Homo sapiens: one gene and its partners. The protein of the gene in region 1 interacts with the protein of each later gene in a pairwise test. Each region holds a gene or a part of one and is shown on either strand. Other genes may lie near its edges.

Region 1 (3,500 bases):
GCCACCAAAAGCAGGGAGCCCTAAGGGAGCAGTTACAGGTGAGTGGAGGGTGTGAAGTTCCGTCCTGTCCTCTGGAGAATGTTTCTTTCCTTCTTTTTCAGCACTTGCTTGGGTTTCCTCCCAAAGGTTCACATTCAGACCATAGGGATCCTCGTATCAGAGAAAGCTGAGTTACAGACAGCCCTGGCTCACACTCAGCATGCTGCCAGGCAGAAAGAAGGTGGGAATCTGGGCACCCCATCATCCTTCAACCTGGCACTTTGACAGGCCTTTAGGGGGAGTCCTTTGGGCCCCATCTCAACCTCTCTCATTCCAGGAGAGTCTGAAGATCTGGCCAGCCGCCTGCAGTATTCCCGGCGGCGTGTGGGAGAGTTGGAGCGGGCTCTCTCTGCTGTCTCCACGCAGCAGAAGAAGGCAGACAGGGTGAGTCCAACTGCCTGCCCCGTCCCCTGGCATACTGGCTTCCCAGATGGAGGAGTGAGCCTAAAGGTCCCTTCTGCAGGGTTGACTGTCCTGCCTAGAAGGCAGCATGGGCCATTTATCACTGCTTTTGTGTGTGGTTGCTAGAGGCATCCTGGGGCTGAGTCAGCTGCTGTGGGTGAGTTTGGGGGCACTGTGGGGAGTGAACACTGGACGCAGAGCTCGGAGGCCAAGTGCCCGCTGTGCCGTTACCTGGCTGTGGCCTTGGTCAAGTCCTAGGTGGGGGAATATGGTACTTGTACTGTGAAGGTACAGAAGAGTATCTTTAGTATGTTACCATTTGTGTAGAGAGAGGGAACGTGTGTGTGTATGTGTACCTATGTACTATGACAATATACATAAAACGTGTCTGCATGGATTCATAACAAACTCAGGAGAGAGGAACAGCACGGCTGGAAGATATTTCCCTTCTGCCCTTTCGGAGTTTTGGACTATCTGAATATATCATCCTTTCAAAAACTGAACAAAAGATAATTTCCCCCTTCCTATTTGTGCCCCCACCCTCGGGGAACAAATGAGCTTAGAGAGTCAGATATACCTGGGTGTTCAAATCCGAGCTCTGTCTAAGTGATCTTAGGCAAGCACTTAACCTCTAATATTCCGTGTTGTCCATCTACAAAATAGAGGTAATAATAGTAACTGTCTCATGTGGTGGTTATGAGGATTAAATGGGATTGTTAGCATGGTGCCTGGTGAAGCATTCAATAAAGGTTCAAACAGTGGTAGTAATAATGATAATAACAATAGCAATATTATCTGATCTCTCTGGGCCTCTGTTAGCCAGCTGTAAATTCGATCTTGGCCAGGTGTGGTGGCTCATGCCTGTAATCCCAGCACTTTGGGAGGCCGAGGCAGGTGGGTCAACTGAGGTCAGGAGTTCGAGACCAGCCTGACCAACATAGCAAAACCCTGTGTCTACTAAAAATGCAAAAAATTAGCCAGGTGTGGTGGCGTGCCCCTGTAATTGCAGCTACTTGGGAGGCTGAGGCAGGAGAATTGCTTGAACCCGGGGGCGGAAGTTGCGGTGAGCTGAGATCGTGCCACTGCCCTCCAGCCTGGGTGACAGAGGGAGACTCTGTCTGAAAATAAATAAATAAATAAATAAATAAATAAATAATAACAAAAATTAGCCAGGCATGATGGCGCATGCCTGTAATCCTAGGTACTCAGGAGCCTGAGGCAGGAGAATCACATGAACCCGGGAGGCAGAGGTTGCAGTGAGCCAAGATGGCGCCACTGCACTCCAGCCTGGGTGACAGATGGAGACTCCATCTCAAATAAATACATATATACATACATACGTACATACATAAATTCGCTCTCTCTCCCTGTTCCTTCCACCCTTACCAAGTCCTTTTTTTTTGAGACGGAGTCTCACTCTGTTGCCCAGGCTGGAGTGCAGTGGCACCATCTCGGCTCACTGCAAGCTCTGTCTCCCGGGTTCATGCCATTCTCCTGCCTCAGCCTCCCGAGTAGCTGGGACTACAGGCACCTGCCACCACGCCTGGCTAATTTTTTGTATTTTTTTTTTTTTTAGTAGAGATGGGGTTTCACCGTGTTAGCCAGGATGGTCTCGATCCCCTGATCTCGTAATCCGTCCCCCTCGGCCTCCCAAAGTGCCAGGATTACAGGCGTGAGCCACCGCACCCGGCCACCCTTACCAAGTTTTTTTAAAAACAAATGAGACCAGCCGGGTGCCGTAATCCCAACACTTTGGGAAGTTGAGGCGGGCGGATCACTTGAGGTCAGGAGTCAAGACCAGCCTGGCCAACATGTTGAAACCCCCTCTCTATTAAAAATAAAAAAATTAGGCCAGGCATGGTGGCTCACGCCTGTAATCCCAGCACTTTGGGAGGCTGAGACGGGCGGATCACAAGGTCAGGAGATCGAGACCATCCTTGCTAACACAGTGAAACCTCGTCTCTACTAAAAATACAAAAAAATTAGCCGGGTGTGGTGGCGGGGGCCTGTAGTCCCAGCTACTTAGGAGGCTGAAGCAGGAGAATGGCATGAACCCGGGAGGCGGAGCTTGCAGTGAGCCGAAATTGCGCCACTGCACTCCAGCCTGGGCAACAGAGACTCCATCTCAGAAAAAACAAAACAAAACAAATTAGCCGGACATGGTGGTGCACGCCTATAGTCCCAGCTACTCAGGAGGCTGAGGCAGGAGAGTCACTTGGACCAGGGAGGCAGAGGTTGTGAGCTGAGATCTCACCACTGCACTTCAGCCTGGGTGACAGAGGGAGACTCTGTCTCAAAAACAACAACAGCAACAACAAAATGAGACCATGGGCTTGGAAATGCCTTGAAAACATGTCAAGTGTGATTGAGAGTGAGGAAGTGTTACTGTGGAGTACTTACTGTAGCTGTTGTTACTGGTTGGCCAGCTGCTCCTCTGCCTGCTATATCCTGACTTAACCTTTCTGTATTTACAGTACAACAAGGAGTTAACCAAAGAGAGAGACGCCCTCAGGCTGGAGTTATACAAGAACACGTAGGATGGGGGATGGTGGGATGGGAGGTCTGGGGGCCCTCAGCATGGGTGGTGTGCTGGGAGGTGGGGGGTACAGGTAAGCATGATGAGGTAGTCATAGAGGTGTGCATGTGTGCCCAGCAAAGCTCTAGTGCCAGCTGTGCCACTGACTCATGGTGTAGCCTTGGGTAACTCGTATCTTTTCTCTGGCCTGTACATGTGACTTTTGATTCCTGGGGTTCCTTCCAGTGCCACAGTTCTGTGGTTGTGGGGCAAGGGTAGAGGGTGGATCACCAAAGCAGTCCTTTCTGTTCTTCGTTCATTCCTTTCTCTACTGCCTCTGGCCATAGCCAAAGCAATGAGGACCTGAAGCAAGAGAAATCAGAATTGGAAGAGAAGCTTCGGGTCCTAGTGACTGAGAAGGCTGGCATGCAGCTTAACTTGGAAGAATTGCAAAAGAAGTTAGAGATGACGGAACTCCTGCTTCAACAGGCAAGAGGCTGCAGCCCCATGGGTGGTGGGAGCGCCATCCAGCTGGGGCCATGGT
Region 2 (4,312 bases), on another chromosome or scaffold:
CGCAGCCCTGTCGTCCACCCCTGGACTCATCCTAAGGCCCCTCTTCTCTGTGGTTGACACTCTTCAGACTGGCCCTGCCCAGATTGCAGGCCGCAGAACAGCCCGACAGGAGCCTCACTCACCAAGCATTTCCCTCATGATGTCGCGGCAGTGACTGCTGGGTGGGATTCATCCTGGGAGGCAGAGCAGGCGGAGAGGTATTCCCAAAGGCACTGCACTCGAGTCCTGCCACCACCCGGCTGCAACCAGGCAGACGTTACCAGCTGGTTGCGTCACTCCCCAGCGAGCCTGATGCTCCCTCTCTGCCCAGTCTTCCAGGAATCCACTGGAGTTGACACTTGAGACAGAACCCACGTTCTCCCTTCCTAGCAAAAGGTGTGGGGTATCCGGTTCTTTGAAGGTCGTAGAGGCAGTTGGGGTGTTTAGGACTACATCCTGACCCTGTTTTTGAGTCTAAAAGGCCCCTCCTGGCTGTGCCGAAGGGCCCTGGGGCTGGACTGATTGCGGGCCTGGCTCACTGTGGGCTTTTCCCCTGTAGTTCGCATTTCACCCCTCCCAGAAGGAAACCCACCACTGACTCTGGGGACAGGCAGTGCCCAGTATGGATGAGATTTGCTCCCCCTCACCACACTCCCGTCTCGTCTCAAAGATTCATACTCTTGTCTTTTTTATTTATTTTTTATTTTGAGACAGGGTCTTGCTCTGTTGCCCAGGCCTGAGTGCAGTGGCACTCAGCCTCGGCCTCCCAGGCTCAAGCCATCCTCCCACTTCAGCCTCCAGAGTAGCTGAGACTACAGGCTTGCACCACCACACCTGGCTAATTTTTTTGTTTTCTTGTATTTTTATTAGAGATGGATTCTTGCCATATTGCCCAGGCTGGTCTCGAACTCCTGGGCTCAAGGGATCCGCCCACCTTGGCCTCCCACAGTGCTCTGGATGACAGGCTTGAGCCATTCTGCACACGCACCCAGCTACCCTCTTGCCTGCTCTGTGTTTGGGTGGTTATGTGTTTATTGGAGGCAGTCAGTTTGAAACTAACTCATGGTGCAGAGGATGGAACCATGGAAGACTGAGCAGTCTGGATTCAAGTGTGGACCCCGCTCTGCTGTGTGAGCTTGGGCAAGTTACTCAACCTCTTTGAGGCTTAGGTCCCTTTTCTGGAAGAGGCCATAATAATAGTAGCTGCAGTATTGCCCTGGGGATTAAATGAGAGTGTGAATACAGAGCCGCTCACCTGTGCTGGGTGGTGTTCTGTGTGCGAGACTCTCTGGTCCCTGAAGAAGGGGTAATAGGGGCCCAAGTGGGAGTTGACTGGGCCCCTGACACCCCAAGGGGTGGGCACTACAAGCACTGAGCAGCCTGGACCCTGGGTTAGAGCGATTTTCCTGATCCTGCAGAGCGTCTTCACTTTTTAATACGAGGTGTGTCTGTCGGGCGCAGGCCCCCGCGTGTGCCCCATCTGCACCCCTGACCAGCTCTGACTCACTCCTCCTGTCTCCTGCCCCCAGCAATATGTCGGACGCCTTGGCCAACGCCGTGTGCCAGCGCTGCCAGGCCCGCTTCTCCCCCGCCGAGCGCATTGTCAACAGCAATGGGGAGCTGTACCATGAGCACTGCTTCGTGTGTGCCCAGTGCTTCCGGCCCTTCCCCGAGGGGCTCTTCTATGAGGTGAGGACACTACTGAGGGCTTTCTCAGACCCAGCTCGGAGTCTGCCCTCTATGAGCGGGTGGGCCGGGCTCCATGCAGTGGTCCCGACTGGTGACAGGGCCAGGTCTGGAGCCAGCCCAGAACCAGGCTTGAGCTCCTGCACGGGCCCATCCTTCACCTGTGAGATGTGAACAGCACCCCAGGTGCCCTGGGTGCTAACAGAGAGCCACCTTTCACCAGCCTCCTCTGGGCAGATGCTGGGCAGGCCCTGGGGGCAGGAAGAGCCTGCCCTGGTGGTGCTTGCCCTCCCTGGGGACTAGACAGTGAGCACAGCAACCGCATGGCCCACCAGCTGGTGCTGATGCCCTGGGGGTCAGGGTTCCCGGGGTGGGGTGCGGTGGTGCTCAGGGAAGGTGAGGTTTGGGCACACCTGAGGGGAGGGAGACATACTGGGCAGAGGGCACCGCATATGCACATACCCTGTGGTGGGAGAACATGGGGTGTATGGAGAGCAGTAGGAAGACTGGTGTGATGGAAGCCGAGGGCATGAGAGGGAGAAGGCCAGGAGCTGAGGAAAGGGAGGTGGATCTCGCTTGGCCCCACGGGCCTCTACGGAGCCATAGGCTTCCCCTCTGCAAGAGGCAGGAGCCACCTCGGGGTGTGGAGCAGAGGAGTCACACTATCTGCTGACATTTGAAAAGGTGACCTGGCCGGGCGCGGCGGCTCACGCCTGTAATCCCAGCACTTTGGGAGGCGGAGGCAGATGGATCACCTGAGGTCAGGAGTTCAAGACCAGCCTGGCCAACATGGTGAAACCCTGTCTGTACTAAAAATACAAAAAATGAGCCTGGCATGGTGGCAGGTGCCTGTAATCCCAGCTACTCGGGAGGCTGAGGCAGGAGAATCACTTGAACCTGGGAGGCAGAGGTTGCAGTGAGCCGAGATCGCGCCATTGCACTCCAGCCTGTGGGACAGAGCAAGACTCCATCTAAAAAAAAAAAAAAAAAGAAAGAAAAAAAAAAGGAGGCTTGTGGCCGCTGTGCTGAGGAGAGGATGTAAGGCGGGGCAGGAACAGAGGCTGGGCCAGGAGGCTGGGGGGACCAGGAGCTGAATTAGTGCAATCACCCAGATGAAAGTGAAGGGGCCCCCACCAGCTCACAGGAGCAGTCGTTAAATCATCAACAATCTTGGGAGCTGGTTGGGCAACAGAGTTATTGTTTAAAAATTAAATTATATCAGCGTACAATGGGATACAATTTTATTAAAAACAAAGGTAACAAATACTCAAAGCATACCACTTGCTAATTATTTTGTTCCACTTTACTATCGTCTATGCTGATGGGGTTATTTCTGTCCATTGTGCTGGTGTGGCCACTGCACATCTCCCCTCAAGTCCACATCGATGTCATGTTGGCAGCCAGGAGTTGGCCATGACGGGAATATTCACACCATGGACACTGGCAAACGCCCCACAGCAGGGCCTGCCTCTGCGCCCCAGAGAGCTGGCTGTTGAGCATTTACCAGAACATCACTTGTGCTTGTGGTGGCGGTGGTGGCCAGGGGTCAGATGCTGGCTCTGTTTCAAGGTAGAGCTGATGGGACTGGCTGGTGGATGGATGTGGGGCCTGTGGTCCGCCTGGCAGAGCAAGAGCCGCTGTTCCTCACAGTGTCTTCAGCCTCCTGAGGAATGCTGTCTAAGTGTAGAGGCAGCGGGAGGGGTGGGCAAAGCTCTAGGAGGGGTGGCCATATGCCCAGAACAAAGCCTCTCTCTCTCACACACAGCAGGTGCCCAGAAGATTTTCATTGCTGAAAGAGTTTAAGCCCTTCCTGACTCTACAGGTCACTGGGTAGGGCTATATCCAGTTTAGTCTAATAAGACACTCATTTTAGAGAACAGGGAAAAACCAATTAAAAAACAGAAAATACAATTGTTAGAGGAAAGCAGAGGCAGGCTTTGGCCCCGCTTGTGGCCAGCACAGGGGCCCTCGCTGGCAGCTGCCGCCTGGAGGGTGTGCACACTGGCTCCTGCTGGCCGCAGCCCTGAGCTCTTCCCACTTCCCCGTGCCCAGGCCCTTCCTGCGTTCCCTTCCTTCTGTCTCCTATACCCGGGTCTTCATGGCCTCTGAGAGAGCTGGATACTCCCACAGAGAAGGTATACGAAATAGGACCAAGTGACACTACACTTCAGACTGGATCTCATCCCTCCTGGCTTAAAACCGCCTCGCCCCCAGCCTGTTCTCCGGACCAACAGGGTCCAGATCCTCAGTAGACACCAGTGGCCCTTTGACAGGTGGCCTCACGGACCTCTCCAGCTTCCACGGGGGCACCTCCCTTTGCACCCCACCATCCCAAAAGGGCCAGTGTCCTCTCTGGCCAGGCCTGGGACCCACTGCTCCAGCCTCAGCCCGGCATGCCCCTGCCTCAGTGCCTCATCCCCTGCTGTCAGGTCCTGACCCAACAAGGGCCTGGGCTGCTCATGGGGATGATAGGTGGTTTGCTTGTCCTCTCTCTGCGACCCCTTTGCAGTTTGAAGGCCGGAAGTACTGCGAACACGACTTCCAAATGCTGTTTGCTCCGTGCTGTGGATCCTGCGGTAAGGCCGGTGACAGTACACATCCTGGGCTGCCTGGGAAGTGGGCAGCAGTGGCGGGGGGCAGGGGGCCG
Region 3 (3,448 bases), on another chromosome or scaffold:
ACTTCACAAGGCTGTTTCAAAGGTTAAAAAAGATAGCATATGTAAACTGTCTTAGCTCAGCGCTTGACATTTCCTAAGTGTGCCATAAATATTAATCTCTTTCCTTACTCCCAGCTCCAATACAGCGTAACAGTGCTTTAAAATGTATGTCCTTCATTTCTCCTTCATTTCTCAGTCACCTTTGTCTCTTCCCTAGGGCATATCCCCAAATTCTTAAACAAAAAAAAATGATTTTTTTCCCCTTCATCAAACTTTTCACTGGCTCCCTTAGCACCCAGTAGAAGGTCCCAACTCCTTACAGAGTCTGGGTTTTCATGTCCCTGTTTGCTTACACAGCTTAATCTTTTGCCACTTTCCCCCTCACATTGATTAAGGTAGCCAAGTTTAACTATTTACACAACTATTCACACAAGTTATTCTCTGGGCCTGCAGCAGAAACATGATTAACAATTTTAATGCCCAGAGTAAACAACAGAAATTTTTCTTAAATTAAAGGAATAGTGTGAAAATGCTGTAAGTACAGAAAATGCAACCTCCATTCCAGTAGAACAATTTCCTTTGCCTTGTCCTTGGCTCTCCAAAACTGTTCATTTATTGTGGTGTCTTTTAGATTTTAGTGCCCTGGGACAAAGATCTAATTTCCCCACCCTACTTTTGACTCTATCCTGGACTACCTTTCCTCACCTCTATCTCTCTCAACCAGACTAACTCTTTATTCCTTAGACTTGATGATGCATCCCTCTTTAGAGATCCAAAGACACCCCAAGCATCCCCCTCTCTCAGCAATAATCACATTGTATAGCAGTGTTTTTCAAAGTGTGGTCCTCACACCGCCTGTGTTAGAATCACCTTTAGTGTTTGTTAAAAGAATTGATTTTGGGTTCCCACTCCTGACCTAACCAGAATATCTGAGAACATAGGCAGGAATTTACATTTTTGACAAGCTCCTCATGATTCTGATGCACCAAAAATTTTAATGAATAATCATCTTCCCTACTAGACTGAACACCTTGAGAGGAAGGACTGTGTCTTTTATTGTTGTTATATTGTTAATACCTGGCACAGTGCTTGGAACATTAGCTTGGCTAATGTTTATTGAATGAATGTATGAATGAAAAAATGCATTATGAAAGTTTCCTCTTGTACTCTCATGTTCGTAGTGATGTTTGTTACTTCCTGGGCAGAAAAGCTTGGTTACTACTCCATTTGAGCTGTATTAATTCTATTTTGCAGAGATATCAAGGCTCCTACATAATAAATGATCATTGTCCTCCTCAAAAACTCTTTGGCAGTTATCTTGGGGAAATGTCTTTGGAGCATATGGCACCATTGTTTTCAGTAACATTTCAGTCTTGTCAAACTTTGTTGTTTGAAGGTGGATTTACATTTCGGTTATAGCCAAAAATCACTCAAAGCTAAGCCTACTTAAAAAAGTGGGGAATTAAACTGGGTTTGGAGTAAGCAATGAAGTTTGACTCTGAAGTCCCAAATTCTGAGTCAAACAGTGAAAAATGACTTCTAAGATACAACATGGTGACAAAGTACTTAGTGGGGGTGCGATGGGCCCCAGATATTTACTTCAGTTAACTTGGCTTTTATAGAATCCTGGCAATGCCATGGACCTTAAGAGAAGTAATTGGCTACCTCTAGCTAAACCCAGCTGGACAAAGAGAATAGGACTTGTATTTAACATTTTCAAAGAAGGTGACTGCATAAGCTTTTGTTGTTGTTGCTCTACTCAACCTGTTCTCCACAACTGTTTCTACCAGAAGATTATTTTATGTCTGCAATTTATGCTTGTTTCCACTTTTTATATTGTCTTATTGAAGAAAGCACAAAAATAATCAAAAATAAAGTAAAACCTGTTTTGAGAGTATGAAAGAAATTTTAATGCCACATTGAGGTTCTGGCTACTTGTAAGTAAGAGTAACTGCATCTGGATGTGTTTTTATTATACAATTCTATGTGTATCTTTAGATGCAGTGAAATTCAGATTGCAGCAAAATCACTTATCTGTTCTTTTCGGCTAAAACACTCTAGGTGAATTTTCTAAACTTCCATGGTTTACATATTTATATATGACTACCAAGATGGAGCAATCCACGGATGGACTTTTGAATAAACTCAAATATTTGATACTGCTTCCTCCAAGGAATGGAGAGTGTCAGGCAGGTAGGTAAGAACCACTCCTACACTTATTTCTAGCTCCTGAAGCCAACTGCAGCCTTGGAGCCAATGGCTGTATTTGGCTGTGTGTTACAGGTTGGCCAAACTGATTGCCATCAGGTCAGACAAAACTGCCTTTTATGGTGTAGTCTGCCAGCTTCAGACATATGCTGTATTGTTGTTATTGGCTAGACTATTTATTAGACTATTGTTGGACTATTTTTTATCAAATGCTTTACCCCACGCCTGTTTGTATTGGGAGCTCTGGACCAATAGTGTCTCTCCTAGTGACAGAAATATGAGCATCTGTGGATTACACAGCCTCATCCCTCTCTACAATATTCCAGCCCATCCAAAATGCTATATTATGAATTAAATAAATATATATGTATTCATGAATTCTTTGTTGTCTCTCGCTGGAGTTGAATTGGGGGAGGACTAAAAGGAAGATGGCCGTGGATTCTCCTGGAATTGGGTAAGTGACTAGGGGAAACCAAGGATCATATAATAGGTAGTGATCTGGACAGAAAGGACCCAGGGGGTCTGGAGCTCAAAATCCAATCAAGAAGACTTTGATTTCAGGAGCATGATATGGTCAAGAAGACCAAAGAAATGAAGATATAGGGTTCAAGGAAACATGACACATTCAGTTTTAGAGATTGGAGCAGAAGTTGAGAATTAAAGAACAAATAAAATCCCAGTGCTGGAACCCATTGATTAAGATTAGGGTAGCACCAGAAGCAAGTGAGCTGACTTACTGTTAAAACAGCTGGCCTGCAGGAGGAGACTGGGAGGAAGCCAGGAGGTCCCTCAGGGCTAGAATTGGGCATATCTTAATCAGATTTGTAGTGGCACTAAGACTAAAAGGGATCATGCGATATGAAGTGAATGAAGCAGGGCAGTCAAGGGCGGCAGCTAGAGAAGTGACTTGAAACAGGTCATCAGACCAGGGGCCTATAAGAACTACAGCCCAAAGGTAAAAGGAGTAAAATTCAAAGGAGAAAAGAATTTGGAACATTGTGTGTTTAGTGGTTTAATTGAAGAACAACCTAGGCAAATACCAAATATGAGGCTATTACCCATAGCTAAAATTTTAATATTTTGTGTGTGTGTGTGTGATGATGTTTGGAAAGGCCATCTCCATTTAATGTGCGAGGACAGGGCAGATATGGGATTCTTTATGTTTCCCCATCTGAGAATAGAATTGGTCCCAGAGTTTCAGTGAATCTGAGCCTGTATTTGGGAGGGAGGTGGTCTCAGTTATGATGGTTAGGAGTAACAG
Region 4 (4,312 bases), on another chromosome or scaffold:
CAGAGGGGTGGGCCTGGTTTATGTCTGTGGCTATGGGCCAGTTATTTCACCTCTGTGCCTTCCTTTCCTCATCTCTAAAATGGGGATACGAATCTTTCCGGGTGGCTCTGAAGATTGAGTGTGGCATCATAGGTAACTGTTGCAGGCACCCAGGTGTTGACTGCGTGTCCATTGTTGTTATAGTTGGTTGAATCTGTCCCATTAATTCTCCTTCCCCAGGCAAGACTCGTGGCTGTGACCCATGGGCCTCTGAGGAGGCGTTGTAAGTCCGCCCAGCTCCCCACTTGCTGTGCTCTCACTCAATGCGAAGGGAACCAAGGTACCAGGGCCAAGTGGGTCCAGACATCCACACGGATTCTGAAAGGGCAGGTCAAGCAGGCACGTGGGGCCCAGGTTACCCCTTATTCCCCGCTGTGGCATGGGAAGCTGGGAAGGGCTGGGGGTTGGGGTATCATGGGATGTGCTTCCTTAACGGCTCCTTTGTGTCACTGCCAGACTTTGTCCAGCCATCAGCCACGGCCTCTCGACAGCACCAAGATGGAAGTCAAAGGTCAGCTGATCAGCTCTCCTACCTTCAATGCCCCAGGTCGGTGGCTGCTTCCCCTCCTGCTGCCTCCTCCCCTGCTCTGAATCACCACCTGCTTGCTCGGGAAGAGTTGGTCCCTTGCCCCACAGCTGCTCCAGAATGCCCTGGCTGTCCCACTGATCTTTGCTCCCTCTGTGTCCAGCTGCCCTGTTCGGAGAGGCTGCCCCCCAGGTGAAGTCAGAGCGTCTGCGGGGGCTGCTTGACCGGCAGCGGACCCTGCAGGAGGCCCTGAGCCTGAAACTTCAGGAGCTCCGCAAAGTGTGTCTCCAGGAGGCGGTGAGGGCCTGGCCCTAGGGGTATCAGGCGGGGAGGTTGGGAGGAGGTGAGGAGCTGGGGCCCCTAGGTAGACAGACTTGGGTGGCAATTCCTCAACCACTTGTCTTGGCTGTAGATTCCCTGTCACCTACTTTCTCCTCAAAGCTCAGCTTAGATGTGTTAGAATGAATGAAATAGGCTGGGCGCTGTGGCTCACGCCTGTAATCCCAGCACTTTGGGAGGCCGAGGCAGGTGGATCACCTGAGGTCGGGAGTTCCAGACCAGCCTGACCAACATGGAGAAATCCCGTCTCTACTAAAAATGCAAAATTAGGCTGGGCGCGGTGGCTCACGCCTGTAATCCCAGCACTTTGGGAGGCCGAGGTGGGCGGAACACGATGTCAGGAGATCGAGACCATCCTGGCTAACACGGTGTAACCCCGTCTCTACTAAAAATACAAAAAATTAGTCAGGCGTGGTGGCGGGCACCTATAGTTCCAGCTACTCGGGAGGCTGAGGCAGGAGAATGGCATGAACCCGGGAGGCGGAGCTTGCAGTGAGCCCAGATTGCGCCACTGCACTCCAGCCTGGGCGACAGAGCAAGACTCTGTCTCAAAAAAAAAAAAAAAAAGCAAAATTAGCTGGGTGTGGTGATCCTAGCAACTTGGGAGGCTGAGGCAGGAGAATCGCTTAAACCCTGGAGGTGGAGGTTGCGGTGAGCTGAGATTGCGCCATTGCACTCCAGCCTGGGCAACAAGAGCAAAACTCCACCTCAAAAAAAAAAAATATGGTAATACAGGCCCACTGTTGACAATTTCAAATCCAACAAACCTCAGAAAACAGGTTCTGTCCAAAATTTGGCAGCACAGTCTGACCTGAACTGGCACAGGCTGATCTGTAGTTTCAGTTTACCCCTCTTACTGTGAATGCCCACAGTGTGCCGGAAATAATACTACAGCTCAGACCACGCAGCCACAGCCCCTGAAGTGAGTTATATAATACTTAGGATCTCGATGGTATCACCTTTATAAAAACAAAACAATTCTGGATTCCAAAGCAGGTCTCCCTGCCTCCCATGCCCACCACCCCAGGGGTTTGGGCCACTGAGGTTTGGGCACACCTGCCTAGTGGAGATACTGGTAGGAGGGAGGGGAGTATCGTGCGTGGTTGCTGAGCAGGGCCAGGCTCCTGGTAGGACTTCTGTAGCTTCTGGGATCATTAATGCTTCACCCCATCCTTCCAACTAACCCTTGGTAGTCTCTGACCCCTGCCTCCCACCAGGAGCTGACTGGCCAGCTGCCCCCTGAGTGCCCACTAGAGCCTGGTGAACGGCCCCAGTTGGTCCGCCGGCGGCCCCCCACAGCCCGCGCCTACCCTCCACCGCACCCCAACCAAGCACACCACTCCTTGTGCCCTGCTGAGGTGAGCAGATGGGTGTGGAGAGCAAGAGGGTGGGAAGAGGGGACAGGTACAGAGGAGTAGCCAGGAGGAAGGTGTGGGGAGGGGGCTTGTGGCCAGGTGAGGGAGAGGCTAAGATGAGAAGGAAAAGGGCTTCTGGAGTTAGTTTCCTGTGATGAGGGAGGATGCTGGTCCCTAACTGTCAGGACAGGCCTCCAACCCTAAGGAAGATGAACAGACCCAGCCCTTCACCAAGAGAGGCCCTGACACGCCCCCTCCCCGGGGTGAATAGGTCTGAATAGGCTGCAGGAAGTGCAGGCCAGCCTCTACTGGGTTTGGCCCCGCCAGGTCCCTGTTCCTGGCCATTTCCAACATTTGGGTGGGCCCAACAGGAGCTGGCTCTTGAGGCCCTGGAACGCGAGGTGTCAGTGCAACAGCAGATCGCGGCGGCCGCCCGCCGCCTGGCCTTGGCCCCTGATCTGAGCACCGAGCAGCGCCGGCGCCGGCGCCAGGTCCAGGCAGATGCACTGAGGAGGCTGCATGAGCTAGAGGAGCAGCTCAGGGATGTCCGGGCCCGCCTTGGCCTCCCAGTGCTCCCGCTGCCCCAGCCACTGCCACTGTCCACGGGGTCAGTGATCACCACCCAGGGAGTCTGCCTGGGCATGCGTCTTGCTCAGCTCAGCCAAGGTGAGCATCCCCTGGTGAGGGTGGGAGAGTGGACACTGGCAAATGGACGTGGTAGGGCTGGGATGGGTGACTGGCCGGTGAAAACCGGGAGGTAGGCACAACTCAAGTGGCCCAACCCGTGAGAAGAGTTGTGACAAACTGGCTTACCGGAAAGGACAAACTGTGGGGGACTGATGAATATCTGCCAGGACAGTCAGGAACCAAACTGGGGTGGTCTTGGGCTCTGGTAAAAGCAGATTCTTGGGACAGGAACAGGATGAGGCGGAAACTGGCCAGAAGGTGGCCCAAGTAGAGGTGCCCACCCAGTGGTGTAAGGGGGCAGCACCCAGGCCTGGGAGTGAGAGGCCCACTTCTCCCCCTCTCACCTGTAGAGGACGTAGTTCTGCACTCAGAGAGCAGCTCCCTCTCAGAGTCTGGGGCCAGCCATGACAACGGTGAGGACTCCTATCCCCCAAACCTGCCCCCGACTCCTACGTCCCTTTAGCCCATCCCCTTTATTCATCCGACCACATCCTGCATGATCAGCCCATCCTTTGATGCCCAGCCCCTCCTGTGCTGCTTCAGCTTCTCCTTAGCCATGCTCCATCTTCCTATGGGTCCCCCATCTTCTTAGCCTCACCCCACCCCAGCCCCACAGCCCCAGAACCTACTTGTCAGCCTTAGTTCCTCCTCAGCCTGCTTAACCTGTCCCAGCACTTTGCCCCTCCCCATGGCCTTGCCCCCCAGCCTGTCCTGCCCCCTCTGGGCCCCCCTCATTGAATTCTATCCCACTTGCTCTCTTCCACTCAGAGGAGCCCCATGGCTGCTTCTCTCTGGCCGAGCGCCCCTCACCACCCAAGGCTTGGGACCAGCTGCGGGCAGTATCTGGGGGGAGCCCTGAGCGGCGAACCCCATGGAAACCACCTCCATCAGATCTTTATGGGGATCTGAAGAGCCGGCGGAACTCTGTGGCCAGCCCCACCAGGTGAGAATGAGCCCCTCCTCCCCTCCGCAGGAGCTGGGAATGGGATAGCAAGCCTGGGCTGGCAGAGGGTCTGCTGGTGGGTACAGTCTCTAACCTAGGCCTGCCTGTCTCTGTCTAGCCCCACACGCTCGCTGCCCAGGAGTGCCTCCAGTTTTGAGGGGCGAAGTGTGCCTGCCACCCCTGTCCTCACCCGGGGCGCTGGCCCCCAGCTCTGCAAGTAAGGGGAATCTGAGGGTGGGCTGGAGGATCAGAGGGGAGGGAACCATTAGTTCTCACTGGAAGCTTGAGGACAACATTATCAAAAGGTGGGATGGCTGGGCGCGGTGGCTCACGCTTGTAATCCCAGCACTTTCGGAGGCCGAGGCGGGCGGGTTACTTGAGGTCAGGGGTTCAAGACCAGCCTGACCAACATGGTGAAACCCT
Region 5 (4,312 bases), on another chromosome or scaffold:
CAGGTTTGACAAACAAGGTTATATAAACTTTTGCATTTTATAGATTGCAGAGGATTTACGCAGAGTCATTTAGGTTGAATGCTTGATTTCAGTGCTGGTAGGGACTGTTCAAACTCATCTTTAGGTTATTCAAATGTTGGAGCAGCACTTTTTCCCTTTGAGTAATGGAGATGACTTTTCCCAATAGAGCAGCCACCAGGTTAGTAAGTAAAACAGTTAAATGTTAAAATAAGGTGGCCTAATTTTAAAAATCTCATAATTTAAAAAATTGAACTGTGAATTTTTTGAAGTCACTTGGCATTTTTTTTCCCTTAAGACATGTTTGGCCATACTTATTTGTATAAGATACCCACCTGTTCATGCTGCTAAATGATGTAGATATACAAAATATAGAACCATTGTGTAAGATAGGAACTGGTCTCCAGTTTCTGGATTAATCCTTCGCCTAGACGTTTTGCCTGCATGGAAATCTTTGCAGTTGTTTTGTTGTGTGGCCAGGACAGAAATTTCTTAGGAGGTCATGTGATGATTTGGTTTACTTTCGGAGTGTGGGGATCATAAAGAGCATCAGGAGTTGTCATAGCATACCTGAGTCTGTAGTGTGGCTCTCTGCATATCCGGAAACTAGCCAAGAACCAGGAAGGGGGCAAAAAGTCCACTTCGCAACCAGAGTAGATAGCATGAAAGTCCAAGAGAATATTTCAGGCCCTCTCTCAGAATGTACTTGCTCTTATTCTAGACACAATCCTAACATTTAAAAAATTTGACAAATAATCCGTAGTGTATTGGGGGTAACACATTTAGAATGGGGTGAGGGACTGCTGTAATCAGTAGTAAAAAGTGACCCCTGACAGCCTGACAACTTGGAAAGAGACAGAAAAACTGTAACTTTAGACAAGAATTGGGGCAGAAACTTTGAAGGCTTGGGAATATTAGGGTGGGAACCCTCAATTGACCTTGTAGGCACCACTCTATAATAACATAAACAAATAATTGCTATTTACTGTTGTTAACGGTGAACTATGGAAATAATACATTTTTAGATACACTCTTTAAGAAGAGAAGGAAATGTTCAATATACTTTGGAAATGTTTACACCCAGAATAATTAACCTCTGAGCTGTTTTGATGTGTAAGGCTCTTACCAATTCAGAAAACTAGGCTGTGCAGAATGACTCATTCATTGGATTGCTGAGATTTCCTGTACCGAAGTCATCTTGTATCACTTTATTTTGTAATCATCAATTTAAAAAACCCTCACATTTTGTCTAGTGTTTAGAGATTTTAAAACTTGGTAAATGGGAACCAAATTCATATATGGGACTCGATCTCAGTATAATAAAAAAAAATTACTAGTAATAGTATGAATATATCTCTCGTTTTATGCAGGACTGATTTTAAATAGTGAGATATCCTGCGCATTAAACATGATTTATTTGAGATTTGTGGGATGTAATTTGGTGCTTTCATTCTCTTAAATTTATTGAGAATCTAGTGATTCACTGGTTCATCCTTTGCCTCAGGCTCATGGTCATTGGAGATTCCAAGAAATGATTGAATCAGTCCCTATGGATTTATTTGTATGTGTTTTTCTTTTAACAGATATGGTCATGATCAGTTCTCTAGTACAGTCTTGTTCCCAGGATCCTTATAACCTTAGATAAGTCTCTTCAGCTACTGCTCCAGTTGAACATTGAGACTTCTGGCCAGTCTCAGTTCCAGGACTAGCAGGTCATTTGATACCTACAAGTAGCAAAAATGCAACCCACTGACTTTACCTGAAGTTTCCAAAAGAAAAATAGACTTTGTGGCATTGTTTATTTATGGCTTTTGTCACTTGGACTTGAAATATATTTTTCATAGAGATTTATAAGTTAATCCACAAAAACGTAACCCACAAAATATACACTATTTGTGTATGTTTGTGGTAAGTAAATGACAATAAATTCCTATACTTATAGTTAAATACAAGAGAAAAGGGTATCCAAAATGGTGATGTTTGAGACAAAAAAATAATTGTGGAGCTTGAAGACTCTCTCTCAGAATGTAATTACTCTTATTCTAGACACAATTCTAACTTTTTTAAAAAAATTGATAATCCATAGTGTATTGGAGGTAACATATTTAGAATGGGATGAGGGGCTGTCACCCTCACCCCATATTTGTGTAAACTTGCTGTCATTAGAGGGTGGGTATGTTGGTTCCATGATTTTTATGGTTTTGGTTTCTGTAGTACAAGTATGCCATCCTCCACCCTGCGTTACTTTTTAAGGTTACAAATGGCATAAAAAGAAAGCAGCAGAAGAGGTTTTCCTGATGATATGGATAAGATCTTGTTTGTAGTTTTTTCATTCATTTATTCATTCCACAAACATTTTCTGACTGCCTGCTATTTTCCTGACCCAGTGTTATGCAATGGAAATGTAAAGGTAACTTAACTCTAGTCCAGTGCCTAGTACAGATAGATACTCTTAGTGTGGGGTAAATGACTAATATAATATCATAGGTGTTGAAGCATAGATATGGGGATAAAAAGTATGAGGAGAGGCCTACTGGGAGCATTGTGAACCTAGCCACTTATTGCCTGGGGAATCAGGGAAGACTTCCCTGAGGAGGAGATACATTTGAGCTGAGTCCTGAGGGGCGAATAGGAGTTGGTTCAATATTTTAATATAAAAAGATTGTAAAGAGGGGTCAAGAAGGTATCTCCCATGCAGAAGATAGTGTTATCCCCTTTAATGTATGGGCCTACATGCATGATCCTCTGAGAGGCATGAGTGGAAGAGCCAGTTTAGTTCAGACAGTTTCCATTTTGGCCACATGGTGGCATTATCTTCTAAGGGCAGCTTGGTTGCTGTCCGCATTGGCATATGCAGGAGAAGGAAGGATGGAAATAGAGAAAAAAGTATTCTCCAGGTGCCCATCTATTTATAGTCATAGGAGGGCATAAGTTGTAGAAGATTTTTAGAGTACAGATTTTTAAATCAGCCTGGGCTAGTTAAATAATTTCTAAGCCTCAGTTTTCTTATCTGAGAAATGATGATTATAAAACCTTGTTATTGTCCGGAAGTTACTTGTTAATGATCCAGCAAGGATCTATTCTATCCCTCAGGTTTAAATTTGCCTTTAATTAATATAGAATTGATATGAATAATATTTTTCTAAATGATCAGAAATCTTTTCATTTAAAGGATTATGAAGAAGAGATTGAGGATGACTTGGAACCCTAAAAAGATATAAGTCTACTGGGACCCACCTTCTATGTTTTAGCTTTGTTTTTTCACTCTGTCTCCTAAAAATATGCAGCCCTGACCCAGTTTTCCCAAATAACTTATCAACACTTTTTCCTTCAGTTGGTGAATGTGAAAAGAAGAAATCATTTTGCTGAATGAAATATTTAGGGGCTTTATATATGAAGCACTTTTCACTTAGGGTTTTGTAATTTTCTTTGGGTCAGTCTGGGATGACCCTGCAGTTTACTGCTGCTTGTAAGTTGTAGCAGGTCACATATATTTGTACTCTTTGTTGTGAATAATTTGGGTTTGGTTGTATCGCCTGGGCACTCACGGCCTTCAACAATTGAGTATATGCTATAAACAGGCCCCATCAAAGCAAGTAAAAGGCAGAGAAACTTCACAACAGTCAAATTGACTTGTTTTTGTTTAAATAAACAAACGAGGACACAAGATGAGGGTTGAAGGGCTGAAAGTAACTGAAAACTTCCCAGACAGTCCTACAGAAGTCTAATTCTAGAGAGAATTGACAACACCAGAGAAGAGGGAAAATATTGCTTCTCCTTGACCCAAGGAGAAATTTGGAGGTTTTCATCTGTGGGTGAAGTGCTTTGTGTAACTCATTTGCTAGGAAAGGTATGGTGCTCGTAGAAATCTTTTCTTTTCCTTTTTAAAATATACAATCACTACTTTGAGATTTTAGTATGTTCCTTCCTTTTCATCTCTCCTGATCATTCCTTCCAAGGCCTCACTGAGCTCATCCAATTCACATAGATTAAGATGCAGAAGCAGACATCTCTTCTGAGCTATTTTTGCTTCCATTGAAGCTGCCTGAGGCAGGATTTTCCCAAAGAAAGCAGAACTTTTAGAACAGGGGCCTAGAGTCGAGGCTTGGGCCTTGCTCTGCTGCCTACATCCCAAGAGCCAGCTTGGAATTCAGAGTACCTGCCTGCTTTTATGTAGGAACATGGGATTCCCTGGAACCCGGAAGCTCATTCTATTGTTTTGTTCCCATTCCACATATCAACATTTTAAAACAGCTTTCTTGTCTTAGTTTACTAGGAAAAAGCAATCAAATGA
Region 6 (4,312 bases), on another chromosome or scaffold:
CATGAATCAGAGGGCACTGGTGCTTACGAAACAAAGATCTCCTTACCGTCTCAGCACAGAGAGAAACTGTTAGGAATACAGTGTGTGGAACTGGGGCAGCTTTCAGTAGATCAGCAGTTAATGGAGATCTGCTCAAGGTGCCAGACTACAAAATAAACAGCTGCTGCAAGGGTGGAGGAATTTGAATTTTTAAAAAATCAAGACTATTTCTCTTTGAAAGTGGCCCAAAACAGACGCTTTTCTGTCTCAAAACTGCACATTTGAACAAAGTGCAGGAAATCTCATGACTCTTCCATGTCCGCCTGAGATGCGAAACTGTGACTCAAGTCAAATAGGCATTAACTTCTCCTCCGATGGGTCAAAGCTAATAGGAGTTTGAAAGATTCCCTCCCACAACCTCTAATAAACCCTGAACGTCTCGGTGACAGACATGAAAATTACAATCTGTAGTAGCACACTGAGATAGGTCTCTAAGAGTTACAGGAAGTCAGACTCCTACAAATCCCACACAGAAGACTAACCTAATTTTTACTTTTTAAATTATGCTTTACCTTGGGCTGTATGAATCATGAGTCATGTTCTCATCACCTGAGTTTATAAAGAAAAGTAGACAAAAATGTGCAATAATCGCTTCCTTTCAATCCTTTGGAAAAAAGGATTATTTATAAGATAAAGATGATGCACTTTAAGGTATATTTCCAAGGCCATCAACTCAAAGAAAGGGTTCTGCACTTCGAGTTTAGCTACATTTGTAGAGCCCCAGGTTTTTGGAAATCCGTTAGTGAGACCTGAAGGAATCTTCAAAAGTTTAAACTTGTATCCTGTTTACACAAAAATGGACTTTACAGGTTCTGGGGAAAAAAGGTCACTTTTTACTCATGTGTGATTATAATTTCAAACATATTAATATTCAATTTCCCAATCTTAAACAAAAGCCAGAATTGAGATGATATACAAAAACTGCATGAAATTCAATCATAGTTAAGACTAGGCCAGAAGCCAAAACTTACTACAGTCAACAACCTGAAGTACCAACATGTTTATATTTCTTCCCAAATCCCTTTCCTCAGGCAACTTTGTTAAAATCTCAGGCAAATTTTCTTACTTATTGGATCAGTATTTTAATCAAATCAGCTACCATCGTCATAGCGCAGATTCCCTTGCCACTGGCAGACAATTATGTGGACTTTACCACTTCTGAGTATTTCATGGCCTGTATTATCATTCATGTTCATCAAAATAGGCTCCAAGAAGGCTGAGGAGAAGAGAAAGCTACAGCATGGGGCACGGCAGGATAAAGCGCTGTTCCAAATGCTTGCCCACAGGAACAATGTATGTAGTAGTTATGCTCTCCATCTACATGTTACCCTATAACATAACTGATGTGTACTACCAAGAAATAGCTCTTGATCACCATATGTCATATCTTTATATGAGAAAATGAAGAAATTCAGCTCTCTGGAGGGGAGAAGAAACGGGGTATTTCTGGGCACCAGAATATTGTGAATGCATAATATTTGGAAATTGCTTGTACAGTAAAATGATTTATCCAAAAAGCATACTTAGGGAATTCTTAAGCTTCAAATCTATAAATAGGCCCAAATTTTTAAAAAGGGGCATGGTGGTGGTGAATATATGTGTGTAAAGAAACAGTAACTGAATACTTAAATACTGAGCAACAAAGAAAGTAAGTGTGAAGAACTAAAAACCATTATTATACCAAAGGCTATATATACTATAGCTTATTTGCCAATCAGGAGGCCAGAAGGATAACTCTAGGAGGAAGGCGCAGTGCTAGCATATGCTAGATGAGCTCCAGGAGGAGAAAGACAATTTCATCTTACTCATTCACTGCTACGGCCCCCGGTCTCAGGACCACTCCTGGCAACAAGCTGAGGTTCCATACATCCGGCTTGAGAAGAGGGTCTGAACTTAAATAATGAGACTGATACAGTGTCTCTCTACTATTTATGCAACAGGAGTCTTACTAAGGGCAGGATGAATTTTTCACACATGTGAACTTGGTATTTAACTGAGTGAAAGCTGTGTACAGAAGTATAATCATATCTAAAACAAATATAGCAAAAGCTGGTTTGTCTGATTCTCAAGTGGTACTCCTTGGTATATGAGAAGGCTGCTTGCCAATGTAACTGAAGGCTTAGAGAGCAAGTTCACTTAAAAAAACACCGGCAACTACCAATCCCCTAACAATGATCAAACTTTTTATGTAAACATAACCAAAGAAAGCCTAATCAATGGAAATTATACCAACAAAAGGTACTTAATGGCATATATGCAAAATCACACAATATGCTTTAAAAATACCATGCATGGAAACCCAATACACACCAGGAAAACACTCAGTCTGTTAACTGTATTCTTATGGAAGTATATCTGACGAAGAACTGACACAAGAACTAATAATGATGTGGTCTGGCTTAGGTCTATTCAAAAATCAGCCTGGGCCAGGTGCAGTGGCTCATGCCTGTAATCCCAGCACTTTGGGAGGCCGAGGTGGGCGAATCACCTGAGGTCAGGAGTTTGAGAACAGCCTGGCCAACATGGCAAAACCCCATCTCTCCTAAAAATACAAAAATTAGCCAGGGGTCCTGGCACACGCCTGTAATCCCAGCTACTCGGGAGGCTAACGCAAGTGAATCGCTTGAACTGGGGAGGCAGAGGTTGCAGTGAGCCGAGATCGTGCCACTTGCACTCCAGCCTGGGCGACAGAGTGAGACTCCCTCTCTAAAAAACAAGCAAACAAAAAAACAGCCTGTTGGTTGGCCTTCCACACCGACTGGGTCTGGTTTAACATTATAAGCTGAATGATCAGGAATGCTGGTTAGGAAGAGACACAAACACTGAAAATAAAATAATTGGCTCTTTTCTTGGCATTACTATCTTTCTTAGTCGTAAGGGACTACAGTTTTGATTTTTTAAAAAATTAATAACCCTAGTATTCCTCAAATGTCACATAATTGAGGTAAGCGCTGGGGTGGAAACTGAAGTTATTATATCGTTATTAATTTTTTGGTCACTGTTTTTCTACCTGAATGTGGACAGATCACCATCTCTGATAATCTGGCTTGAGTTTCCTCTCTCTGAAAGAGTTAGATTCACCTGTATTTCAGGAGAAGGCTAAGAAGGAACAAACATATGTGAATGCTCCCTTTCAGAAAAGTGGCCATATTACCATGAAGAACACTTAAAATAAAGGTTTCTTCAGGGACGTCCTCCTTAGCCTCCTTCCTCTTCCTTAGCCTCCCACTAGCTTGAGTCATTCTTCTAAGGCTTTCCTTCACAGCATTGATCACAATTGCAATTATTTGAGTAATAGGCAATATTTATCTACCCCAACTAGACTGTATCTCCAGGAGGACAGGGAGTTTATCATCAATGAAATGAGCCGCCAGCACCTAGCATAAGGCAGCCAATTCTTGTTGGACTTGTAAATGAATGAAGGAGCACTTTGGAAGTCAAAAGTTAACCATGGGGAAGTAGTCACTTGAAAATGTTTCATCAACAAAATGTGTATTCCCATGCTCGAAATCTGAAAGTAGAAGCTTTTAGGAGTTCTACTTTTTCCACAGACTAATAAGAGGCAGGAAGAGCATAAGAAAAAGAGAATACTCACTGGTGGTGGCTTCTTTCTCATCTCAAATGTGCGTGTGGCACCAAAACTTAGTGAAGCAATAATGGGGCACCTCCCTAGTGAGGGTTCATCATCACTGTGCCAGTCCACGCTGTCCTTCTCATTGCGATAAAGATTGCAGAGTAAGGAGTTGAAGGTGTGGCCAGTGTTCTCTTCAATGCGGTTCTTTAGTGTGCGCAGCACAGGGTGCCACTGCAATCCACAGACCAAGAAAAGGGCAAGACAGTCGCATTACACACAAAATGACAGCCGCATGGAAAAACAGAAAAGAAAGGGCAAAATCAGCCAAGTTATAACCAGGGCATGTAATAAGCAAACCACATGGAATGCAATAAACAGAAGGCAAGAAAAGTAGTTTAATTCCCTCCCATCATTTCTATTTTGAAGCAAGTTGATCTCTGCAATTTTATAAAAGTACTAAATTTAGTACAGCAATATCATGAGGACCAGAATCTATCTAACCATCTCATCCTTTCCATGTCAAATACATGGCCTTTGCCATGTATTTTCATCAGTATCTTCAGGGCAGTGACCTTGGTAAGTCATTAAGGTGGTAAGTGGAGCAGCAAAGCCGATATGTCACTAGGTAGTCAGCAGACCCAGACTGAAGCCTGAAGAGTGAAACAACTTTCCTGCTGGGTGGCCCTCTGTTCGTTCTAT
Region 7 (4,796 bases), on another chromosome or scaffold:
GCCCGTTTTCCGTGCCTCTCTGCGCTGGGTCCCCCATAGACGCTGGGCTGGGGTCTGTGGAGAGGGTGGAAGTCCCCGTTCTGGACTCTAGGATCGACATCCTGCTTGAATGTTTGGAAGAGGGTCCCAGCTGAATTAAATTCAAAAAGAGGCTTTCAAGGAAGAAGGAGGTGTCATCTTTGCAAAATTAACGACCCCCAATCCACGCAACCCCTACGCCATCCCAAGGCCGGCGCCCTGCGAGGTGGCGGGAGGCCAGGGTCCCGGGTTTACCCTCGGGTGACTGCCCAACGCGGGCTGGGATACAAGCGGACCCTCGGAAGGGTTCCTTTTGCAGACTGGCGCAGTAAGGACCCCATGCCGGGAAAGGTTGGGAGGTGGGGGACCCAGGCCAAAGCGCCAAGTATCGCGAGAGACCCCCTGCCCCCGCGCAGTGCCCTAAACCCCCCTCACACCCCAGCGCCCCTGCTGGCTGCGCGCGGGGCCCGGCCGGGTGGGGCGGACAGGGAAGGGGGGGCGAGGGTGACCTCAGCGGTTCCGCCGCTCCGGGAAGTCGCTCGGCCCGCCCCCTCCGGCCCCCGCCCCGAGTTTCGCTCTCTCTGGGGCGGGGCGAGCGGCGGGCGGCGCTGGGCCAGCCAAGTTGGAGCGCGCCCCGCCCGGCGCCCTCGCCGTCCCCGCGCCCTCCCCGCCGGGGCGCGCTGCCCGCAGCTCCACGCGCGCCAGGGCCGCCCTGGGGAGGGCGCGCGCGCGAGCGGCGACCGGAGAGGAGCTCGGGGCGGCGGAGGTGAGCGCTGGGGGTGGGCTCCCGGCTCTGCCCGCCCCGCCCGCCCGCCGGCCCTCTCCCCGCTCCCCGCGGCCGCGCTGCCATAAATGGGGCCGGCGGCGGCGGCATCTGGTGGGCCGGGCGGCAGCTGGAGGCGGCGCGGAGGCGTGGGGCGGGTGGCGGCGCAGCCACCCGGGCGTCGGGGACGCCGCGAGCGGGCGGCCGCCCGGGAGTGAAGTTCAGGAGCGCCCGGGCGGGGACGCGCGCAGGTTTGCGCGGCTCCGGCTCCTGCGCCTGAGTCCCGGGACCCGCCCCCGCGGCGGAGCTGCTACTGTTTACTTTCGATCGAGTTTTTCCTGCTCGGGGCAGGTGCCCGCGGCGGCTCTGGACGGGAGGTTGCGCGCGTCACTCCCGCGCCGCTCTTTCCGCGCTGCCTGCAGCCGGGAAGGGCGCTTCGTGGGCGCCTCCAGGCGCGCTGACGGGCGTCCCGTTTGTGCCCAGGTGATGACGGCGGCGGCATGGAGTTCCCTGAGCACGGCGGACGGCTGCTGGGCCGCCTGAGACAGCAGCGCGAGCTGGGCTTCCTATGCGACTGCACCGTGCTGGTGGGCGACGCGCGCTTCCCGGCCCACCGTGCCGTGCTGGCCGCGTGCAGCGTCTACTTCCATCTCTTCTACAGGGACCGGCCCGCGGGCAGTCGCGACACGGTGCGGCTCAACGGCGACATCGTCACGGCGCCCGCCTTCGGCCGCCTACTGGACTTCATGTACGAGGGCCGCCTGGACCTGCGCAGCCTGCCTGTGGAGGACGTCCTGGCAGCCGCCAGCTACCTGCACATGTATGACATCGTCAAGGTCTGCAAGGGCAGGCTCCAGGAGAAGGATCGAAGTCTGGACCCGGGGAACCCTGCCCCTGGGGCAGAACCTGCTCAGCCACCGTGCCCCTGGCCTGTCTGGACCGCGGACCTCTGCCCAGCTGCCCGAAAGGCCAAGCTCCCCCCGTTTGGGGTCAAGGCTGCCCTCCCTCCTCGAGCATCTGGGCCTCCTCCCTGCCAGGTCCCAGAAGAGTCAGACCAGGCCCTGGACCTGTCGTTGAAGTCTGGCCCAAGGCAGGAGCGGGTCCACCCACCGTGCGTCCTCCAGACACCCCTCTGCAGCCAGAGGCAGCCAGGGGCCCAGCCACTGGTGAAGGACGAACGGGACTCACTGTCCGAACAGGAGGAGAGCAGCAGCTCTAGGAGCCCCCACAGTCCCCCGAAGCCACCTCCTGTTCCTGCAGCCAAGGGCCTGGTGGTGGGCTTGCAGCCGCTGCCCCTCAGCGGAGAGGGCAGCCGGGAGCTGGAGCTTGGTGCAGGGCGACTGGCGAGTGAGGACGAGCTGGGGCCTGGTGGGCCCCTCTGCATCTGCCCGTTGTGCAGCAAGCTGTTTCCCAGCTCCCACGTGCTGCAGCTGCACCTCAGTGCCCACTTCCGTGAGCGAGACAGCACCCGGGCCCGGCTCTCACCCGACGGCGTGGCACCCACCTGCCCGCTCTGTGGGAAGACCTTCTCGTGCACATACACACTGAAGAGGCACGAGCGGACACACTCGGGTGAGAAGCCCTATACGTGTGTGCAGTGTGGCAAAAGTTTTCAGTACTCCCACAACCTGAGCCGGCACACCGTAGTGCACACTCGAGAGAAGCCGCATGCCTGCCGGTGGTGTGAGCGCCGTTTCACGCAGTCCGGGGACCTCTACCGCCACGTCCGCAAGTTTCACTGTGGCCTCGTCAAGTCCCTTCTGGTGTGATGCATCCCTGTGGGTCCTGAGGGTGGGGTGGAAGGGAAGGGATGGGCCCTCCCAGGTGGGACACAGCATGGGGTGTGAAGCCTGACCAGGTGGAGGTCCCTGCTTGGGCCAGATGGCTCCACCCTCCTGGCAGAGAGAATGCTGCCTCTTCCTGGAACTTGGCCTCAGACTCGGTAACTTGGGCAGCCTTCCTCCCACCTTGCCTCTCCTTTCCCCTCACTCTCCAACTCATTCCGGCCCCCAGGCTGTGCCCTGCCTAGGCTGTGACACTATCTTCCTCTCCCGTCCCCTCCAGCCAAGTTCTGAGGGGTGTCCAACCAGCACCTGGCTCTGCCCCCGTTTCTCCGTGTGAGATGGCACATCCATCTCCCGGCCCGGGACTTTCCTGACCACCTCTCTGGCAGGCTTGGGGAGGTCTTCATGAGCCTGGCCCCACGCTAGGTGAATTATTCACATGTCAGAAAAGTTGTTGGTGTGCGTCCCAATGGGGCGCTGGGAGGGAACAGGACACTCCTGGGGAGCGGCAGCAGGAACCCCTGCCAGGAAGGCCTGGGGCACAGTGAGTGCCAGCAGGGGCCATCTGGGCACAGCTGGTGTCTCGGGGTGGGGGGGGGGGTGCAGCCCCAGCAGGGATCCTAAGGCAGCAGGAGTAGAGCCAGCTAGAAGCTGAGTGGCTGTGGCATCATTGTCACTCGGGTGGGACGTGGGTCCATGAGAGCGTGCAATTATGACCACACTGTAACTTTGAGCAGAGAAAGTGGGAATTTGGAACTGGATTCTCTTTAGAGCCAGGAAGAGCCTCCTGAGGCGGCCAGATGTCTGCTGGTGGCCGCCCAGCCACATGCTTGTCTGCCTGAGTGCAGGTCTAGGAAGCCTCTGGGCATCCCCCAGGGTGGGGTCTGGGCCGCTGAGCTGTGTGCTGCTGCTGGGCCACCGTGGGCCTTACCTTGACGGTCACTCTGCCTGCTAGGGGGTTTCCCTGGAGCTGTGGGCATTTCCGTGCACTGACTGAGCAGAGGCAAGGGCTGCCCTGTCCGCCAGGGGCAGGGTTTGCGGGCCTTCCTTTCCCCACGGCGAGGCATGGGTGAAAGTGGCCATGGCGGCAGGGTTAGGGGCAGGTGAGGAGTGGGAGTCGCAGCACCCTAGGGGCCTCCATCCGCAGCCTTGGGAGACTGACGCTCCTCGAACATGAATAGAATGTGGAGACCACAACCCCCACACATGTCGTTGGTTCAGGTCGCCCTGCTTTGCCTGCCTAATGGAGCACATCTTGCTGCCAGAACCTCACTGGCCTCTGGGGGTCGGCAGGTGCAGAGCCACCTGGACGCCTGGAGACCACCTGGGATGTTTCCTCTGTGACTGGGAATGGCCTTGACAACAGAGTCCAGCCAAGTCTACGTTATTTTCTCATCTCCTGACAACACTGGATGTCATATTTATTAGTCAGCCTGGTCTGGAGTGAAAGACCGTCCCTAGCGCATCTCCCACGCGCCCTGGGCTCCTGGTGTGCTGGGTGCCAGCCTGGGAGCCCAGCGCTTCTGGGTGATGCCCCAGGGCTCAGAGGCCCTGGATGGCTTTGGTCTCGAGACAGCTGGGGGAGGGGCCCTGCTTCTGATTGTCCTGGGCCCCAGCCCCCACCTCTGCAAGGGATCGGTGTGATGTGCTCCATAATCGGGTGGGGGGTGTGTGTGTGTGTGTGTGTGTGTGTATGTATGCATGCGTCTGGCACATGGCAAGGCCCAAGCCAACCCGGCACCCCGTAGATGGGCAGCTACACTGCCACCCAAGCACGGAGATGTGGCCGCGGCACTGGGTCCCCCAGTGGGTCCCATGGGGGAAGAACTTCCCTTTGCTGGGGTGGGCAGCCTGCCCTGAGCTATCAACACTGGATTTGTTGTCTTCTGCACAGCTACTGTGAAGATAACGTAAGGAGAAGTGGTCAGTTTTCATTTTATAACTGACACAGTTGGGACAAAATATATACGTGTACATATATTTAAGACACTAATTGTGTGGGAGAGTTTAGTAGAGGCCTGTGCAGACACAAGGCAAACAGCGTCAGCAGCGTGGGGGTCTCCTGGGCCAGCTCGGCACCTGTGGGTGCTCTGACCCTGGGGGTGGGGACAGCTCCGTGCTAACCCCAGCAGACAGTTGTTGGTGCACAGTGTCTAGGAGGCGTGGGAATGGGTGCTGTCTTCCTCTTTTCACATCATGGCGACAGTAATAAAGCCCACCTCCAGTGGAAA

What was found.
Region 2: the proteins of GOLGA2 (region 1) and LIMS2 interact in binary tests that used the Homo sapiens proteins (3 or more experiments, as listed by UniProt).
Region 3: the proteins of GOLGA2 (region 1) and MID2 interact in binary tests that used the Homo sapiens proteins (3 or more experiments, as listed by UniProt).
Region 4: the proteins of GOLGA2 (region 1) and CCDC120 interact in binary tests that used the Homo sapiens proteins (3 or more experiments, as listed by UniProt).
Region 5: the proteins of GOLGA2 (region 1) and SAMD4A interact in binary tests that used the Homo sapiens proteins (3 or more experiments, as listed by UniProt).
Region 6: the proteins of GOLGA2 (region 1) and ALKBH3 interact in binary tests that used the Homo sapiens proteins (3 or more experiments, as listed by UniProt).
Region 7: the proteins of GOLGA2 (region 1) and ZBTB42 interact in binary tests that used the Homo sapiens proteins (3 or more experiments, as listed by UniProt).

Annotation. Positions count from the first base shown.
Region 1 is NC_000009.12:128,262,508-128,266,007, reverse strand, and holds part of GOLGA2 (golgin subfamily A member 2), read left to right. Parts: coding exon 1-38; intron 39-126; coding exon 127-220; intron 221-316; coding exon 317-423; intron 424-2,915; coding exon 2,916-2,974; intron 2,975-3,303; coding exon 3,304-3,445; intron 3,446-3,500. UniProt on the Homo sapiens protein: Peripheral membrane component of the cis-Golgi stack that acts as a membrane skeleton that maintains the structure of the Golgi apparatus, and as a vesicle thether that facilitates vesicle fusion to the Golgi membrane.
Region 2 is NC_000002.12:127,654,759-127,659,070, reverse strand, and holds part of LIMS2 (LIM and senescent cell antigen-like-containing domain protein 2), read left to right. Parts: intron 1-854; exon of another isoform or gene 855-1,041; coding exon of another isoform or gene 1,042-1,109; intron 1,110-1,508; coding exon 1,509-1,668; intron 1,669-4,174; coding exon 4,175-4,241; intron 4,242-4,312. UniProt on the Homo sapiens protein: Adapter protein in a cytoplasmic complex linking beta-integrins to the actin cytoskeleton, bridges the complex to cell surface receptor tyrosine kinases and growth factor receptors. Plays a role in modulating cell spreading and migration.
Region 3 is NC_000023.11:107,929,073-107,932,520, forward strand, and holds the end of MID2 (probable E3 ubiquitin-protein ligase MID2), read left to right. Parts: 3' UTR 1-2,565; downstream 2,566-3,448. UniProt on the Homo sapiens protein: E3 ubiquitin ligase that plays a role in microtubule stabilization. Mediates the 'Lys-48'-linked polyubiquitination of LRRK2 to drive its localization to microtubules and its proteasomal degradation in neurons.
Region 4 is NC_000023.11:49,061,740-49,066,051, forward strand, and holds part of CCDC120 (coiled-coil domain-containing protein 120), read left to right. Parts: intron 1-219; 5' UTR 220-302; coding exon 303-365; exon of another isoform or gene 366-378; intron 379-495; coding exon 496-586; intron 587-728; coding exon 729-862; intron 863-2,121; coding exon 2,122-2,262; intron 2,263-2,630; coding exon 2,631-2,925; intron 2,926-3,296; coding exon 3,297-3,359; intron 3,360-3,714; coding exon 3,715-3,889; intron 3,890-4,007; coding exon 4,008-4,106; intron 4,107-4,312. UniProt on the Homo sapiens protein: Centriolar protein required for centriole subdistal appendage assembly and microtubule anchoring in interphase cells. Together with CCDC68, cooperate with subdistal appendage components ODF2, NIN and CEP170 for hierarchical subdistal appendage assembly.
Region 5 is NC_000014.9:54,569,694-54,574,005, forward strand, and holds part of SAMD4A (protein Smaug homolog 1), read left to right. Parts: intron 1-4,312. UniProt on the Homo sapiens protein: Acts as a translational repressor of SRE-containing messengers.
Region 6 is NC_000011.10:43,901,048-43,905,359, reverse strand, and holds part of ALKBH3 (alpha-ketoglutarate-dependent dioxygenase alkB homolog 3), read right to left. Parts: intron 3,845-4,312; coding exon 3,635-3,844; intron 1-3,634. UniProt on the Homo sapiens protein: Dioxygenase that mediates demethylation of DNA and RNA containing 1-methyladenosine (m1A). Repairs alkylated DNA containing 1-methyladenosine (m1A) and 3-methylcytosine (m3C) by oxidative demethylation. Has a strong preference for single-stranded DNA.
Region 7 is NC_000014.9:104,799,917-104,804,712, forward strand, and holds ZBTB42 (zinc finger and BTB domain-containing protein 42), read left to right. Parts: upstream 1-1,184; 5' UTR 1,185-1,281; coding exon 1,282-2,550; 3' UTR 2,551-4,796. UniProt on the Homo sapiens protein: Transcriptional repressor. Specifically binds DNA and probably acts by recruiting chromatin remodeling multiprotein complexes.